2 separate regions of the Homo sapiens genome follow, and region 2 is linked to region 1. Evidence: fine-mapped expression QTL. Tissue or cell type: esophagus muscle. Region 1 holds a variant in brackets; the other region holds the start of a gene. All regions are shown on one strand. Distances are between the middles of the regions.

Evidence for each region. PIP is the estimated chance that this variant, and not a neighbour inherited with it, causes the effect.
Region 2: it holds the start of LINC01300, and the variant in region 1 is fine-mapped to the expression of LINC01300 in esophagus muscle (GTEx, PIP above 0.99). The same link has a PIP of 0.9 or more in gastroesophageal junction.

The regions. Positions count from the first base shown.
Region 1 is chr8:141,376,492-141,384,593 of GRCh38, forward strand. It overlaps LOC101928037 (a long non-coding RNA gene), which reads left to right. Exons shown (of 3, transcript XR_007061125.1): 2 at 1,431-1,555; 3 at 5,589-5,818. Among named protein-coding and RNA genes, the nearest start is that of PTP4A3, 11 kb to the right of the region's middle. RefSeq lists enhancers at 1-63, 64-838, 7,632-8,102. The variant G/C (reference allele first, on the strand shown) is at 3,711.
Region 2 is chr8:141,336,950-141,345,051 of GRCh38, forward strand. It overlaps LINC01300 (long intergenic non-protein coding RNA 1300), which reads left to right and starts at 3,600. Exons shown (of 4, transcript NR_024441.1): 1 at 3,600-3,723; 2 at 5,392-5,527; 3 at 6,009-6,266; 4 at 7,395-7,672. RefSeq lists a silencer at 1,781-2,075 and an enhancer at 5,224-5,724.

The DNA.
Region 1 (8,102 bases):
GAAGCTCAGGGAAGAGGTGAGGGAGGCTGGGTAGGGCAAGCACGTTCTCAGGCTGCAGGGTGGCTGCCCATGGCCGGGGTGCTTTTGGATGGCCAGCTCCCCGGTTCCCATCCTGCTCGGGCCTCTGCTTTTGAAGAGGGTCATGGTGAACGTCTGGATTTTGGGCCCTGTGTTCCCTCTGATGAGCTGGACTCTGGGCTCCAGTCCCCACTCCCCCCGCCCCCCACCCTGCTCTCAGGAAATGAGCCTTGTGCCCAGACTGGGCGCCTTCCCTGACCCTGCGACTCAGGCCCTTCTCTGTGGGGGGCGTGAGAGCCTTGAGCCTGGCAGGAAACTAGGTAGCAGATCCACAAACACAAAGGGACAATTGGCCGTCATGATAGCGATGGTGGTGACGGCAGTATCTTCATGACAGTGGCCCCGCAGCAGGGCACGGAGCCACCTTGTGCTGTTCCTCACAAGGGCCGGCCATGGGGTGCAAGGGCTGCAAGTGAGAAACTCTGCAGACCCCAGCCAGACCTGGGGGAGCCCCGTCTCCAAAGGCCCTGCTTGGTGTGGCAGGTGGGATTAAGGTTGGCGGTCGGTGGAGGAGCAGGTGGGGCTTCCTGGAGGGGAGGGAGGAGAGACCCCACTGGTGGGTGGTGGGAGGGGCAGCAGGTCTCAGGCGGGAGTCACGGCTAAAGGCCAGTTCTGGGTGGGGCCTCCTATCACTGCGGGCAGGGGCAGGACAGCTGGGGATGGGCTACTGAGGGATCGTGTCTAGAAGCAGATGGTTGCTGTGTCCCGCCTGTGGGTGTCTGGGGAGTGGGCAGACTGGGCATGGTCATGGGTAGGGAAGGGGGTGTGGCCCTCTCAGACCCAGCAAAGACCCTGGGGTCCTGGCCACCAGTCCAGCCTCTGTTTCTACCAGACACCTGTGTGTGGGACAGGTGGACAGTCAGGTCATTTGAAAATATTCTCCAAGAGGAAGCTCTTAGAATCTTTCGTCCCTTTAGCTGGGGTGGGTGGGGGGGCAACATCCTTTGATTCAGAGTTTTGGATCTGGGGTCCTGGGCAGCTCCAATGGCTTCACGAACCCCTAGACTTTGTGTGTGTGCAACTGCCCATGTGTGTGCCATGAGGGTCCATTGGGACTGTGAAGGGTCTGAAAACCCACGTGGGTTAGAACCACGGTGTGGTCCGGCCCCGTTCAGTGCAGATGGGGCAGGCAGCCCCCAAAGCCACGCTGAGAGTTGGAGAGTTAGAGCCAGGTCAGCTGTTGGGAAGGGCTTCTCTGCCCCCATGCCCCAGACCCTCCTTCAGGGGCAGATTTCTGTCAGAGAGACTGGGATGGGCCTCAGATGAGCCCCATCAACATCCAAAGAGAAATGGATTGTGGAAGATCCGCCTCACTTGTCCAGCTGACCATGTGTCTATCTGTCCTTCTCCAGGACCCTGGCAGAGAAGGCTGCCGGGGGGCCGGCCACCACCGTGTGGGGTTAGTTCCAGGCAGCAGCGTCCCGGTGGCTTTCATCCTTCACCTTTGTACATCCTGGCCGTGTTTGACATCTTTACGGTGAGCTCGTGCCGTTCTATAAACATACGTCCTTTTCTTCCTTAAAGAACAGCAAAAAGTTGCCTGGAGTGACTGGAAGCAACCCTCGCAGGACATTAGCAAGGATTAGTTCTGGGCGGGAGAAAGCAGGTGACTGTTAATTTCTTCTTTCCACTGATTTGTATTTATTATTAATTTATTTAAAAATTTTAATACAGAAACCCCTCTGCTCTCTAATTGTTCAGTCACTTGCATATCACCATCAGGCCTGTACATCAGTAGAGGCAGAAATGTGTAGCTTAATGCCAACTTCCCTTCCCAGGTTGTGGGTGCAGGGTGACAGGAGGAGAGAAGCCCTGGCGCACGCCTGCCTCATCCCTGGCTGGTCCTGGGCAGGCGTCACCAATCAATGAGGCTCTTGCTCCCCAGGAGCCTGGATGGACACCCCCTCCCCGGCCCTCTGGGCAACCGGCCCAGTGGACCAGCAGAGCAGGCAACATGGCCCCGACTGGATTGGGTCCAGACTCCTTAATTTATCCATGAAGAACCTGAAGCCCAGAGGCATAGTAATTGCCAAAGTCCCACAAGTGTTCAGGGCCAGGCTGCCCCTGGCTCAGTGTTCTTCCTGCTGGGAGCTGGGCCATGGGCTCTGCACTTCCTCACTCTGCATTTGGGTCCATCTGGTTGGGACTGCCAGGCAGGGTGAGGGAAGCCTCCCAGCACTGTCCACCGTCCGGGGGAATACTTAATGTGTCATGTCCTCCACCTGGGCAGGGGCAGGGCAGGGGTGAAACACCTCCCTGCCCACCAGAGCTGCCTCCCCCAGAGTCCCAGACCCAGGAACCAGCCCCCGCCCCACCCTGAAGCCTGCCAGGACCCAGCCCTTACCAAGGGGCCCAGGGGTTGTAGCTCAGAGGCGTGGGATGCGGACCCCCGACCACCTAGCTGGCAGGGGGCAGAGTCCGGACTCAGACCCAGGACCACCCATGCCAGCACACAGCCCCTTCCCCACAGGCGCCTGTGGAGCAAGTCAGGAGGCAGGACACAGCCTTGAGGACTGCAGGTCTGATGAGGACAGTATCTGCCCTGGGGACCCTGATCTGAGGGAGGAGGCAACAAAAAATGACTCATCAACGGGGTGATGGGGACATTTTGGGATGGCAAATTTGGATCTCAACCCGGGCCCCACCGCCTCCCACCAGAAGCAGTTACTTAGCCTCCCTGTGCCTCAGTTTCCCCATCTGCATAGTGAGGACAGCAATGTTTGGGGCCGTGTGAGGAGTAAATGAGGCAACAGTTGTGGTTTGGGTCTGGTCCGTGGCTGTGTGGGGTCAAGTGAGCCCGTGTGTGCCCATGGCTGCCTGTGCATCAGAATCACCGGGAGTTCCCATCAAACACAGACATCCGGGCCTGGCCCAGGGAGGCTGACTTTAATGGTCTGGGCAGAGACCTGGTCATCAGCACTTTTTTTTTTTTTTTTTTCCGAGACAGAGTCTCATTCTGTCTCCCAGGCTGGAGTGCAGTGGCGTGATCTTGGCTCACTGCAACCTCCGCCTCCAGGGTTCAAGCAATTCTCCTGCCTCAGCCTCCTGAGTAGCTGGAATTACAGGTGCCCGCTACTATGCCTGGCTAATTTTTGTATTTTTAGTAGAGATAGGGTTTCACCATGTTTGCCAGGCTGGTCTCGAACTCCTGACCTCATGATCTGCCTGCCTCGGCCTCCCAAAGTGCTGGGATTACAGGCGTGAGCCACCGTGCCCGGCCGGTCACAGCATTTTAAGGACTCTGCCATGATTCTGATGTGCTGCCAGGGTGGCTGTGCCTGAGCCGGCCTTTGGCTCTTGCGCACACACTGAGATGCCGGTTCGAGTGGATACAGGGGGTCAGCCCACTTGTTTCCCACGGCCAGCCTCCAGTTGGGCTCACATTGAGTAACTGTCTGAGCCCAGTCCCAGGTAGACATCGTCAGTTTCCACGTGTTCCTTCATTCACTCAGGAACAAATGGGCTTTACTTTATCCGAGGCCTTGTAGATAATTATTTTTTCCCTCTGTAAACCAAGTCCTGCTTAAATCCCATCCAAATCCCTCCAGCCAGAGCCCATGCTGCCTGCGAGCCTGCTCCCCATCTCCGGCTGAGCAGGTTTGTTTAAGGCTGGGCTGACACTTCTTCTCCCC[G/C]CGCCTTGGTGTGTTTACACTGGGGCCATCAGCAGAAACTGCAGGTGCGGCAGGGAGGCTGGAGACAGGGCAGGGACCATGGGGGTTTCAGGGCGTCCTTTCCACACAGTGTCTCAGGTCGCCCTGTTCCCAGCCTCGTCCTCGTTCTCGTTCCCACAGGCGAGGCCTTGGAGGTCACTCAGGACAGGGGAAGTGCTGAGGCGAGGCCTCAGGCTGCTAAGTGGAGTGAGCCCAGGAAGGCTTTTTGAGTGGGGGACGCCCGAATTGGTTTTCTGTGAAGACCAGGGAGCAAACGTGCCTGCCATGGAGTGAACGGCAGGACCCGCAGGGAAAACCTCAGGCAGCGGCTTGAAATACCATGGCCGTCCATGGAGGGGGCTGGTCAGATGCTGGCGGTGTGGGCAGAGGAGGCTCTGGGCCACTGCCTGAGTGTGAGTCCTGCCACCACCACCTGATGGCTGAGTGACCTTGGGCACGTTACTTAACTTCCCCATACCTCGGTTGCCTCATCTCTCAAGGGAGTAATCATATTAACTTCTCAGGGTCATTGCAAGGGTGAAATCATCTAGAGACACAGAGCCTAGAATACCATACTCAGGAGTTTGTGCTCTGCCCTATAGGCAGTGGGGAGTTATGGCGAGTGGTTGAATAGTGCTGGAGCTGGGCTTTCTGAGGGTCTGAGCTCCCAAAGCCTTTTCTGTATGGCTGGGTTGTGAGGCTTTTATATTGTCACTGCTGACCAATCACAGATTGGCTACCCTTCCTCCTGGCCAGTGATTGGTTTAGGGTGGGTTAGCCTAGCCAGCTTTGGGCCAATGACAGGTGACCAGAGGCTTATTGTGGGTTCTGAGCTCCCTCCTGTCCCCGGATAGACAGGCAGCCTTTTTGTGAGCATGAGGGGAACCTGCCTGAGAATGATGGTGGGGAAAATCTTAGAGAGGCACAGCTGGGTGTGGTCACCCTGTCCTGGAGCCCACAGTCCCTCTGCACTTCCCGTTATGTGAGTTCCTAAATTTCCTCACTGGGAAGCCTGGGATTCTGTCACTTGCTTCTCAAAGTACCCAGTGTCCACATGGCAGAGTGTCCTCCTAGAGCCCACATCTGATTGCATCCCTCCCTGCTGAAAACCGTCAGGGGCTCCCACCCCTTGATGAGGAAGCACAGTGCTTCACCCCATAGCCTGTGCCTCCCACTGCGGGTTCTGCCGGCCCCTGACTGTCCTTGAACACACCAGGCACACATCTGCTGTGGGGCCTTCGCGCTGCTCCTCCCTTGGCCAGGAGCATTCTTCCTTTAGGCCGGTCACTGCTCACCTCATTGAGGGCCGAGCTCAAATGTTGGCCCCTCAGGGCAGGTGGGTGGCCAGGACCATCTGGGTTTGCTGCAGCCACACACACCCCTGATTCTTCTGTGGCCTTATTGATGGAGGTGTGGGTCTCGCTCACGCCATGAATTGCTGGTCGGTGTGGTGGGGGATGGGTCTCTTGCTCCTTGGTGGCTCGGGGACCTGAATGACAGAGGCTCCGCCATTGCCTGCAGCCGGTGCTGTCTCAACACAAGGCCTCAGGTCCCCTGTGGTGGGGGAGAGTGGAAGAACAGGGCACCAGTTCCTAAAAGCTTTGTCCCTGAAGTGTCCATCACATTCATCTCTTCTACTCGCATTCCAAGGACCACAGTCAGTGGTGGTGGCCATGCCTAATATGAGGGGGCATGACCCCAAGCCTGGAAGGGGCCTGGCACACAGCAGTGGCTTCCTGGCCATCCAGTCCCCGTGAGCGGTCTCTCCCCTCCACAGCGGCGTCCTGTTCTTATTCGGGAAAAAATGCACATAACACAAAATTCACCATGTTAAAGTATGCAACCCGCCTTCATTCACAGGGTGGAGCCCCATCACCTCTGCTTCCAAAACATTTCCATCACCCGAAATGGGAAACCCCATTCCTCCCGCCGAGCCCTGGCAACCAACAATCTGTGCTCATCTCTATGATGTGCCCACTCTGGGCATTTTGTATAAATGGAATCATGTGATATACAGTCTGTCGTGTCTGGCTTCTTTCACTCAGCCTCATTTTCTCAAGAATCGTCCACACTGCAGCCTGGATCAGAGTGTCCTTCCTTTTCATGGCTGCATGCTATTCCACTGCTGAGATGTGCCACCTTTTCTTTGTCTGTTCATCCAGTGATGGTTGACGGACATTTGAGTGTTTCCTGGCTTTGGTCATTGTGAACAGCACTGCTACGCGTGTTCACATACAAGTTTTTGTTTGAGTCCTGGCTTTTTTTTTTTTTTTTTTTTTTGAGATGGAGTCTCGCTCTGTCACCCAGGCTGGAGTGCAGTGGCGCGATCTCGGCTCAATGCAAGCTCCGCCTCCCTGGTTCAAGCAATTCCCCTGCCTCAGCCTCCTGAGTAGCTGGGACTACAGGCGCCCAACACCACGCCCAGCTAATTTTTGTATTTTTAGTAGAGACAGGGTTTCACCATGTTGGTCAGGCTGGTCTCGAACCCCTGACCTCGTGATCCACCCACCTCGGCCTCCCAAAGTGCTGGGATTACAGGCGTGAGCCACCACACCCAGCCAAGTCCTGGCTTTTAATTCTTTTGGGTAGATACCTGGGCCTCATCCCATTGCATTCCTTCTATAACTGATCCCCCTCCGCAGTTACTTGCTCCCAACGTGCCTCTGTTTCCCTCTCTGTGAACTGGGCATGTTGCTGATCTCCAGTTATGAGCAGTGTCTCTCTTAGGTGGTGTGTTCTGCAGGGAGGGGAAGCAGCCGCTGCCCCTGCACGCGCCTGGCCATGCTCACAGCATCTTCCCGTCGCTCCTTGACTTGTTCACTGACCCCTCCCTGATGTGGCCGGAGGACGGGGCCTGGTATCACCTTGTCCTGTGCAGGCCTGACACGTAGAAGGTGTTTGGCTGATGCTTGCTAGTATAGGAATAAGCTAGTTCTCTAACCTGGAGTTCCTCCCTGTGAGGTTTTGTTTGCAAGAAAAAATCTGCTGCTAAGCCAGCTGTGGAGGCACATGCCACAGTCCTAGCTACTCTGGAGGCTGAGGCAGGAGGAGCGCTTGAGCCCGGGAGTTTAAGGCTGCAGTGAGCCATGCTCGCACCGCTGCACTCCAGCCTGGGCAACAGAGCCAGACCCTGTCTCTTAAACAAACAAACAAACAAACAAACAAACACCCTGCTGCTAAAACATGTGGAAAGTGTGATGGACGCCACACTGGCAGTTTTGCTTCCTCAGCCAGCACCTCCCACATGCTCCCAGGGTCAGAGGTCAGGGATCAGGCTGGCTCCTGGTAGGGGGCTCTGTGTGCCCTGGCAAGTCGCCCCTCCCTGGGCCAGGAGCGAGGTGAGGGTGTCCACAGCAACAGGCTGTGTTTGGACACAAGCGGGGTGGGGCTGCACCACACGGGGCTCTTCCTGTGCCTTATAAATCAGCTCCCAAGAGCATTCCCCAAAAGGAGTTTCAGCTGCTCCCGAGCCCAGGACAGCAGGCTGGTCTCCCCTCCGGTGAGAAATCTCCTCTCCCGTCTACCACCCCAGGAGTTCCCCAGAGAGGCTCGGTTATCCTCCAAGGAGGGGATACTCGCTGCCTTGCCGAGATCGGAATCCACTTTTGCCTGTTCTCTAAGCCCTGCTGGAGATGTGGGAGTGCCCCTGCCCCACAGCCTGTTCCGAACTCACTTGGGCCATCGCCCAGCTCCAGCCTGTCTCTCAGTGTGAACCCCGAGAGCATCTTCTGCACCCAGGTGGATGGGTGGCTAACAGCATGGGCATCAGGGGCTCCTGGCTTTGCTTCCCCGCGCCTGCATTTCCTTGCTGTTTGGCTTTGGGTGATCTGCAGGAAGGAGGACTGCCACCGCCATGGCACGCGCCTGGCCTCTCCACTGGCACCTTCCTGTTGTTCCTTCCCTTGTTCGCCAACCCCTCCCTGATGTGGCCGGAGGACAGGGTCTGGTGTCGCCTTGTCCTGGCACAGGCCTGGCAGGCAGAAGGTGTCTGACTGATGCTTGCTGGATAGAGGAATAAACTAGAGCTAGATCTTGGGGCTCCCTGTGGGGTTTTGTTTGCAAGAAGAAATCCCCTTCTCTGCAGCTCCCTGGGGCTCTGTCATTGCAGAGGGGGACTGGGATGACTGGGGAGGCACGCGCCCTGCTGAGGGCAGCCACTTCTCCAGCCCAGCAGGCTGTAATCCGACATCCACAGGGATTATCCTGGTAACTGGTGGTGCATGGCCCCTGTGCTGAGAGGGCTGCAGTGTGCACGCCCCGTTTAGAGCATCGTATGGGTTCAGCATGTGTCCGCGGATGGGTGCTTGAGGAGCACCTGTCAGACGGGTGCCTGTCAGGCCATATTTTTGGCAATGGTAGCTTCCCGGGAATGAG
Region 2 (8,102 bases), 40 kb before region 1:
GCTTCCCAGACCACACGGCGGCCCAGCTGTGTGTGGGAGGCATAGGAGCTCTCCTGAGGAAAGGCATGGGAAACAGAGGGAATAGCAAGTGCGAAGACCTGGTATGGAAGTAAGAAGTGACCGGAGTGTTGCTTGGGGGTGGTGAGCAGGAGGCAATGCATCAGGCAGGCGGAACCCTGCCCCTCCCAGGCTGACCCCAGCCAGACGGGGAAGGACCTGGGTCCCTGCTGTGGGTGGTGAGTCCCATACATGTCCCTGCCCACCCTGTCATCCTGCAGGGAGCAAACTGATCCCAGAGGGGGTGCCCAGCCCACGCCGTGCAGCACCGCAGGGGGAACCCAGCGTGATAGAGAGCAGTGTCTTAGACCTGGCTCCAGCGCCGAGGCTGCGGCCCAATCGAGGCCGGGTCCTTCCCCTCGAGACTTCAGCCTCGGCTCTCCTGGACTTCAGGGTGACATCACCAGGGTGTTGGGGGTCTTCTGTGATCCTCCTACGAATACTTCTTTTTTTTTCTTTTTAGAGACAGGATCTTGCTCTGTTGCCCAGGCTGGAGTGCGGTGGCATGATCACAGCTCACTGCTGCCTCAACATCCTGGGCTCCAGCAATCCTCCCGCCTCAGCCTGCTGAGTAGCTGGTACTACAGGGGTGTACCACTAGGCCTGGCTAATTTTTAAAAATTATTTATAGAGACAAAGTCTCCTATGTTGCCCAGGTTGGTCTTGAACTCCTAGGCTCAAGCAATCGTCCCGCCTCAGGCCCCTGAGTAGCTGGGTCTATGGGTGGGCACCACTATGCCTGGCTAATTTATTTACTTATTTTTGTAGAGACGGGGTCTCACTATGTTTCTCAGGCTAATCTTGAACTCCTGGGCTCAAGTGATCTGCCTGCCTCAGCCTCCCAAAGCACTGGGATTACATGTGTCAACCACCGTGCCCTACCCACTTCTGTTTTATTATTGTTATTATTATTTAAGATGGGATCTCGCTGTGTCACCCAGGCTGGAGTGCAGTGGCACGATCTCAGCTCACTGCAACCTCCACCTCCCAGGTTCAAGAGATTCTCCTGCCTCAGCCTCCTGAGTAGCTGGGACTACAGGTGTGCGCCTCCACGCCCAGCTAATTTTTTGTATTTTTAGTAGAGACAGGGTTTCACCATGTTGGCCAGGCTGGTTTTGAACTCCTGACCTTGAGTGATCCGCCCACCGTGGCCTCCCAAAGTGCTAGAATTACAGGCATGAGCCACCGTGCCTAGCCTGTTTTTTTTTTATTATTTTTAAAATTTTATTTATTTATTTATCGAGACAGGGTCTTGCTCTGTCGCCCAGGCTGGAGTGCAGTGGTGCAATCTCAGCCCACTGCAACCTCTGCCTCCTGGGTTCAAGCAATTCTCCAGCCTCAGCCTCCCAAATAGCTGGGATTACAGGTGCCGGCCACCACGCCCGGCTAATTTTTGTATTTTTAGTAGAGACAGGGTTTCACTATGTTGGCCAGGCTGGTCTTGAACTCCTGACCTCAAGTGATCTGCCCGCCTTGGCTTCCCAAAGTGCTGGGGTTACAGGTGTGAGCCACTCCTGGCCTCACTTCTATTTTTCAAACCGAGGGTGATGCTTAACCCAAGAGTAGGTGCTGTCAGGCCGAAACATCTGTTCTGGTCCTTGGCTGGCTTTCCCAAGGCCCTGAGTGTCCTAGGGCCTTGTGACTTCCTCTGTGAACTGGAAAACAGCCCCCAACTCCAGTCCCTGCCTGGCTAGGCTTGCCTGAGCAGAGCAGAGGTGAGAGGCAGGAAAGATCCAGCAGCCTCAGAGCTGTGAACGGTGCCAGCCCCGTGATTGACATGTCAGCCGCACTAATAGTATCGCTTCATCTCTCCAGACTCTCCCTTTCCCGGTTTGTCCACTGTTCTGTTTGGAAATAAGGTTGTGCCCTTAGTCATACCTTGATAAGAAGGGAGACGCCCCTGCCTGCCCTCTCTCTTCTGTTCCACCTCCTCTGCCGAACGTTCAGGAGCTCCTCATTCAAAAGACCGTCAGATGAAATGTTTGCTAGAGATAACACTGTGAAGCATTTAGAAACACCTTGCACCAGCCTACTTCTTAAATACTTGTTAAAAACGAGATCACACCCCAAATAGAGTTTCATAGAATATACCTTTTTTATTTTTCATTATTTTTTGAGATGGAGTCTCACTCTGTTGCCCAAGCTGGAGTGCAGTGGCGCAATCTCAGCTCACTGCAACCTCTGCCTCCAGATTTCAAGTGATTCTCCTGCCTCAGCCTCCCAAGTAGCTGGAATTACACGCATGTGCCACCACACCTGGCTAATTTTTGTATTTTTAGTAAAGACATGTTTTCACCATGTTGGTCAGGCTGGTCTTGAACTCCTGACCTCAAGTGATCTGCCCACCTTGGCCTCCCAAAGTGCTAGGATTACAAGCATGAGCCACCGTGCCTGGCCTCTTTTTTAAATCCAGTTTTTATTCAGCAGAATGTTCCGAAAGATCCAGAGGGTAACATGTGGGCAAAGTCCCTGAGCCCTGGCTGGGGTGGCCTGGGTGGGGTTGCCTTCCTCCGACACCCAACTCATGTGGGCCCTGGGCGCCCAGCACCGGGTTCCTTCCCCCCAAACCCATCTCATCTGGACTCTGGGCACCCAGCGCCGGGTTCCTTCCCCCAGGCCTTGAGCCTGGCTTTGCAGCTCCTGCTGCCCCAGGGCAGGTGGTGGTGGCCGCCCAGCCCTCACCCAGCCCCGAGTCCTGTGTGGAAGGCGATTCCTCCCACTTTACCGGGGAGGACACAGAGGCTGAGCGTGGTCACGGCCGGAGCCCCAGCGCAGCATCTGAGCTGCAGGCTGGCCGCCCCCCACCCCGCTGCACCCCCATATTCCACTCACAGACCTTCTTCCTGCTGAACACAGCTGGGCCCTGACGCCTCTGTGCCTTGGCCACAAGGCACCTTCTGCTCACTCAGCTGTCCCTCCAGTCCCCGTAGGGCTGCAGACCCAGGCCCACCCAGTCACAGGCCTGGCAGCGAGGGGGAACAAAAGGGTCAAGGGGCCGCCCAGGGCTGGGAAGGGCCTTGCTCCACCTCGCTCTCCTCCATTCCCCGTGTGGGCCTCCGTCTCCCATTCTGTGAAATGACCCGTTTGGGCCACAGGGTCCCCAAGTCCTCTTGGCTTGGGGCCGTCTGTTCCAAGAGGAGGGGCCATATTGGTCCTTGAGGCCCCTGCGGCCCAGTAAGTCTGCAGTGAGGCCTCCCTGGACGTATATATCAACAAAAAGTCAAACTCCGTAAAGTGTTTGAGACATTTATTCTGAGCCAAAGATGAATGGCCGGGGGCCCATGACAGCCCCAGGAGACCCTCAGACCATGTGTTCAAGGTGGTCGGGCCACAGCTAGGTTTCATACATTTTAGGGGGACACAAGGCATCAATCAATACACATAAGCTGTACATTGGTTACGCCTAGAAAGGCGGAACCACCGGAAGCGGGGATGCTTCCAGGTCATAGGTGGATTCGAAGATTTTCTGATTGGCCGTTGGTTGAAAGAGTTATTGTCGGTAGATAGGAATGTCTGGGTTAAGATAATGGGTTGTGCAGACCGAGGTTTCATCATGCAGATGAAGCCTCCAGGCAGCAGACTGCAGAGAGAATGGATGGGAGATGTTTATTATCAGACTGAAAGACTGTTCTGCCAGTCATTCCAAAAGGGAGGGGGGATAACAAGGTATGTCCGTCTCCCGCTTCCCACCGTGGCCTGAACTCGCTTTTCAGGTTCACTTTGGAATGTCCTTAGCCAAGACGAGGGTCCGTTCGTTTGGCTGGGGGTCTTAGGATTGATTTTCTGGTTTCCATATGCAATGGGAGTGGGGGAGAGATGGGGTGGGGGCAGCCTGAGGCTCAGCCCTGGCCAAGGAAGCCCCCTCCAGGCATTGGCCAGGTTCTGACTCCTACAGTGTTACAGCCGGCAGGGAACTTGGACCCACAAGCTCCTCCCCTCCCCAAGCCTCAGTTTCCTTGTTTGTAAGATGATGCCTGGGGTCCTTGCTTCCTTGTAGGGCTCAAACAAGATCCCAGGCTCTATTAGGAACAGTGCCAAGGCAGGGGGCCCCCAACAGCTCAAGCAGGCTGGAGTTTGGTGCTCACGGAGTAGGGGAAGCTGGTGGCTTCTCAGGCTCATGACATTGTCCCTGCAGGGTGCAGGGCTATTCCCTGGTGGGGCTGGGGGTGTGTGTGGCCATTGGCAGGAGCCCCGATGTTCTCATCCATGAGTCAGCAGAGATGGGAACATCAATTTATTTGAGTGGCTGGTGCAGCCGAGTCCTTGGAGGACAAGGAGTTTTTGCCAAGCCTGGGCCGAATGTGCCAGGGCTTGGGGCAGGGAAACTGTGTCCAGGGACACAGCTTCAAGGGCCCCTGGTTGATGTCCCCAGGGCCTGCTGAGTGCCAGGCCCTGGGACTCAGAGAGGACACCACCCGATGCAGGCCCTGGGACTCAGAGAGGACACCACCGGATGGAGCTGCCCAAAGGGAGTGCCAGTCGGATGTGGGGGTGGGGGAAGAGGAGGGACCAGGATGTGACGGGTCCGAGGTCTCACGGGGTGCCCAGGTGGGCTGGATTTACAGAGCATGGGCGGCCTGCAGGACCATGAAGGGGCAATGGGGGCAGAAGACAGAGGTTGGAGGCAGGGTGGCATGGAGGGTCTCGGGGCAGGGGCAGGAGGGTCTCCAGGGTGGTCAGTCTGCTGCAGTCAGCAGAGGGCACTGGAGGGGCCTGGGCTCAGGCTCCAGGTAGAGCTGACCTAGCCCAGAATGGGCAGGTGAGGGAAGGCCACCGCCTGGTGGGCTTGGCTGTCCCCTCACCTGGACCCCATCGCCGGCCTCTTCCTTGCACGGGGTAGATGCTCATTGATGTGGTGACGTCTAGCAGGAGGATGGCCCTGGGCAGGGCTGTGAGCTGGGAGACCTGGGCTGGGATCTCAGCTTTGGGCCCACACACTGGGATGGAGGAGTGTTTACTGCTGTCTCTGAATGGCTGCAGGAAGGCTGAGGGGGCACATGGTTGATGGGCCAGGCCACTCTGGGCACAGTTGCTGAGAGTCGGCTCTTCCTAAGTGGGGGCACCCGGGGTGGTGGAAGGGAGTCAGATGCCAATTCCCAATGGGTCCTGGTGGTCGTGCCCTGCTGCAGGGCCTTGGCACCCGCCGCCATAGCCATGGAGTCCAGGGGGGCCCCCAGGGGCTGGAAAGGCAGGGAAACAGATTCTCCTTGGGAGCCTCCAAGGAAGCCAGCCCTGGCTAGCACGTCTGTGCTCTGTCTCTGGCTTTGCCTGTTCTGGACATCTCTGGAGGTGTGAGCACCATGTGGCCTTTCGTGTCTGGCTTCTTTCACTTAGCACGGTGGCTTCAGGTCCCTCCGCATTATCGCATGTGCCAGTGCTTTGCTCCTTTTTACACCTGAGTAATCGTCCACTGTGGAGTCATCCTTTCAGCTGCTGAGAGATGCGTGGGCAGTTTCCACCTGCAGCCATCGTGAGTAGTCGGGTGAGGCTGCTGAAGCAGACGAGTGAGGGCACTGCCCGGGCCATTTGGGCTGGAGCGGGGGTTTGAACTCCTCTTTGTGGGACGGAGGCTGTGTTCTTGCCCACACCTCTCCCTGCTCCAGGCCTGTCTTCCCCTTGGGACTGGGACTATGACTTGGTGGCTTCAGCCTCCGCAGGGTGAGCCTGATCCTGAGAGTCAGGCTGGGCTGAGGAGGACGGGTGGGCCTCCTGGGGGAGGTGACGACTTCGGACTGGACCTTGCAGGAGGGATGGGCTGTCTGAGGATGGGAGATGGGAGGAGGTATTGCAGGTTGGGCAGCAGGTGAGGCTGAGCTGGGAAGGGAGGTGGTTGAGGCTGGTTCTTGGGCTGAGTGCTGGGGAGGGGTCGGCCGGGGATCACCGAGAGGTCCCTCCAGGCTGCATGAGCAGAGGAGACACCCTACGGGTGATCTTCTTGCCTTTGTTTCTAGAATTCACAAATCCTACAATTCTAAGCTCTCAGAACCCTTGGATCTGAAGGTTCTCAAATGCTAAGGTTTCTAGATGTTAGCAGACGAAGGTGTCAAGACGCATGGGATCTACGATGCAGAGTTCTGAGTGGGGATATGCGTCCCCCACCCCGACTCACCCCACGACACATATCAGTAACAGCCTCTGCAACTCCGCCTTGGTGCCCCCGCACGTTCCAGGGGCAGCCACACTGATGGATTGCTCAGAACGGGCTGGAGGTGAGATGTGTTTGCCCGGAGCCCCCACACACTGTCGTCTCCAGCTGTGCCTGTCCCTCCCCACCTTCCACTCTGTGTCTCTTCCCTGCCCCCCTTGTGCCCCAGCCCCAGCCCCCCCTGTTCTTTCCTGCCACCCAATCCTGTGCCCCACGACAAGGAGGCTGAGCCCAGGGATGGCCAGGAAGGAACCCCCGGCAGGCTCTCAGGGTGGGAGAGAGGTTGTGGGGATCAGGGGCTTTGCAGAAGGGACAGGGAGGCAGCCCAGAGCACCCCAGCTTCTTGGCCAGCAGCAGGTAACCTGGCTGGAGGGCGGGGCCCCCATGGGCCATCCCTGGGCCAGCTGCCCAGGGCTACCAGGAAGGCAGCTTGTTTTGTAGGAGGTCAGGCAGCGCCCTAACCCCACCTCTTGTCTTCCCTGATGTCACACCCCAGGGTCAGCCCCTTGGGCCAGAATGGGGGTGATGGTGGGAACCGGGAAGCTGAGAGAACAGGGAGGAGGCCGGGTGGGGCACACCAGGCTGTGGCTGTGGGGATGGGGAGATTCCTCGCCTGGGCAGGCCGGGCAGCAGCGGGGCAGTCCTGGGGGGTGTGGTAAATGCTTCTGCTCTCTTCCCCTGACTACATGGGAGCCTCCGTCCCACCTCACCTGGAAAAGGGGCTTGGAACTGGGCTGCTCGGCCTTGGGCACACCAAACGGGGCCCTTGGAGCCCTGGGCTTCCTGGGGTGGCTGGGTCCCCACCCTGCCTCTGATCCATCCTGAGTCTGCATTTCTTCTCCAGGTGCCCCCTGCCCTTGGCCTCCCACCACGGCCTGGGAGTAGATAGTGGGCTGGGGCAGGCCCAGCGCTGTCCTCTGTGGGAAAGGAGGACTCTGGGCCTGGAAATAGTTGAGTGTGGACAGAAATAACCCTGACTGGCCTCAAAACAGAACATGGAAAATTAAATAGGGAACATTAGCATTCACCCCGCGCTTGCCACAGCCACTGTCCCATTTGGGAGGCGGGCGCGCTTATCCTCATTTAGAGACAGGGAAACTGCGGCCCAGAGAGGGGAGGTGACCTTCCTGAGGTTCCTCTGCCAGCCGGCCAGGCCCTGTGACCCCTGTGCCTCTGTGCTTCCACTACACAGCCGCATCTCCACTTCTGCCCCGACAGTTCCTGCTGCAGCAGATGCCCTTCCAGATGCAAACTCCTACGCATCCTTCAAAACCCAGCTAAATGTCACTTCCTCCGGAAAGCCTTCCCCACCTCTCTAGCAGGCAGTTGAGCCCAGCTTACATTTCCGACAGGCCCTCACTGCCCGGGATTGCAGCTGCGGGCTCCTTGAGGGCAGGGATTGTCCCTCATTCATCCTGATTCCATGCCAAGGCTTATAGTAGGTGCTCAATAAATGCTTGCTGAATGATAGATGGGCTGTGTGTGGTGCTAAGTTGAATGCCTTGTCCCTTTCCCACAATTTCATCTCAACCACCCAAGAATTTAGCGTGAGTATGGCTGTTTTACTAAGGAGCAAACAGGCTTACAGAGGTGAACTCACCTGCTCCAAGGTCACACAACAGTCAAGGGCTGGACCTGGGATTTGGTCCCAGCCCCGCAAACACAGCCCCACTACGTACCTAGCATGGGCTCAGGTAGGCCCTAGGGGTGGGCAGTGTATCTGACCACTCGTCCTGTCCACCTTCCCCTGCACCTGTGGCCCCACGGACCCCTGGGCTGGCTCTCAGGTGTGGCATCTCCACCTTCCCCCACAGGCCCAGAACCCACCCTGCTGGGCCAGCATCGTCTCCCAAGGGCTCCCACACAGACACAGTGGGAGCCCCTTCCCTCAGGCTGGCCC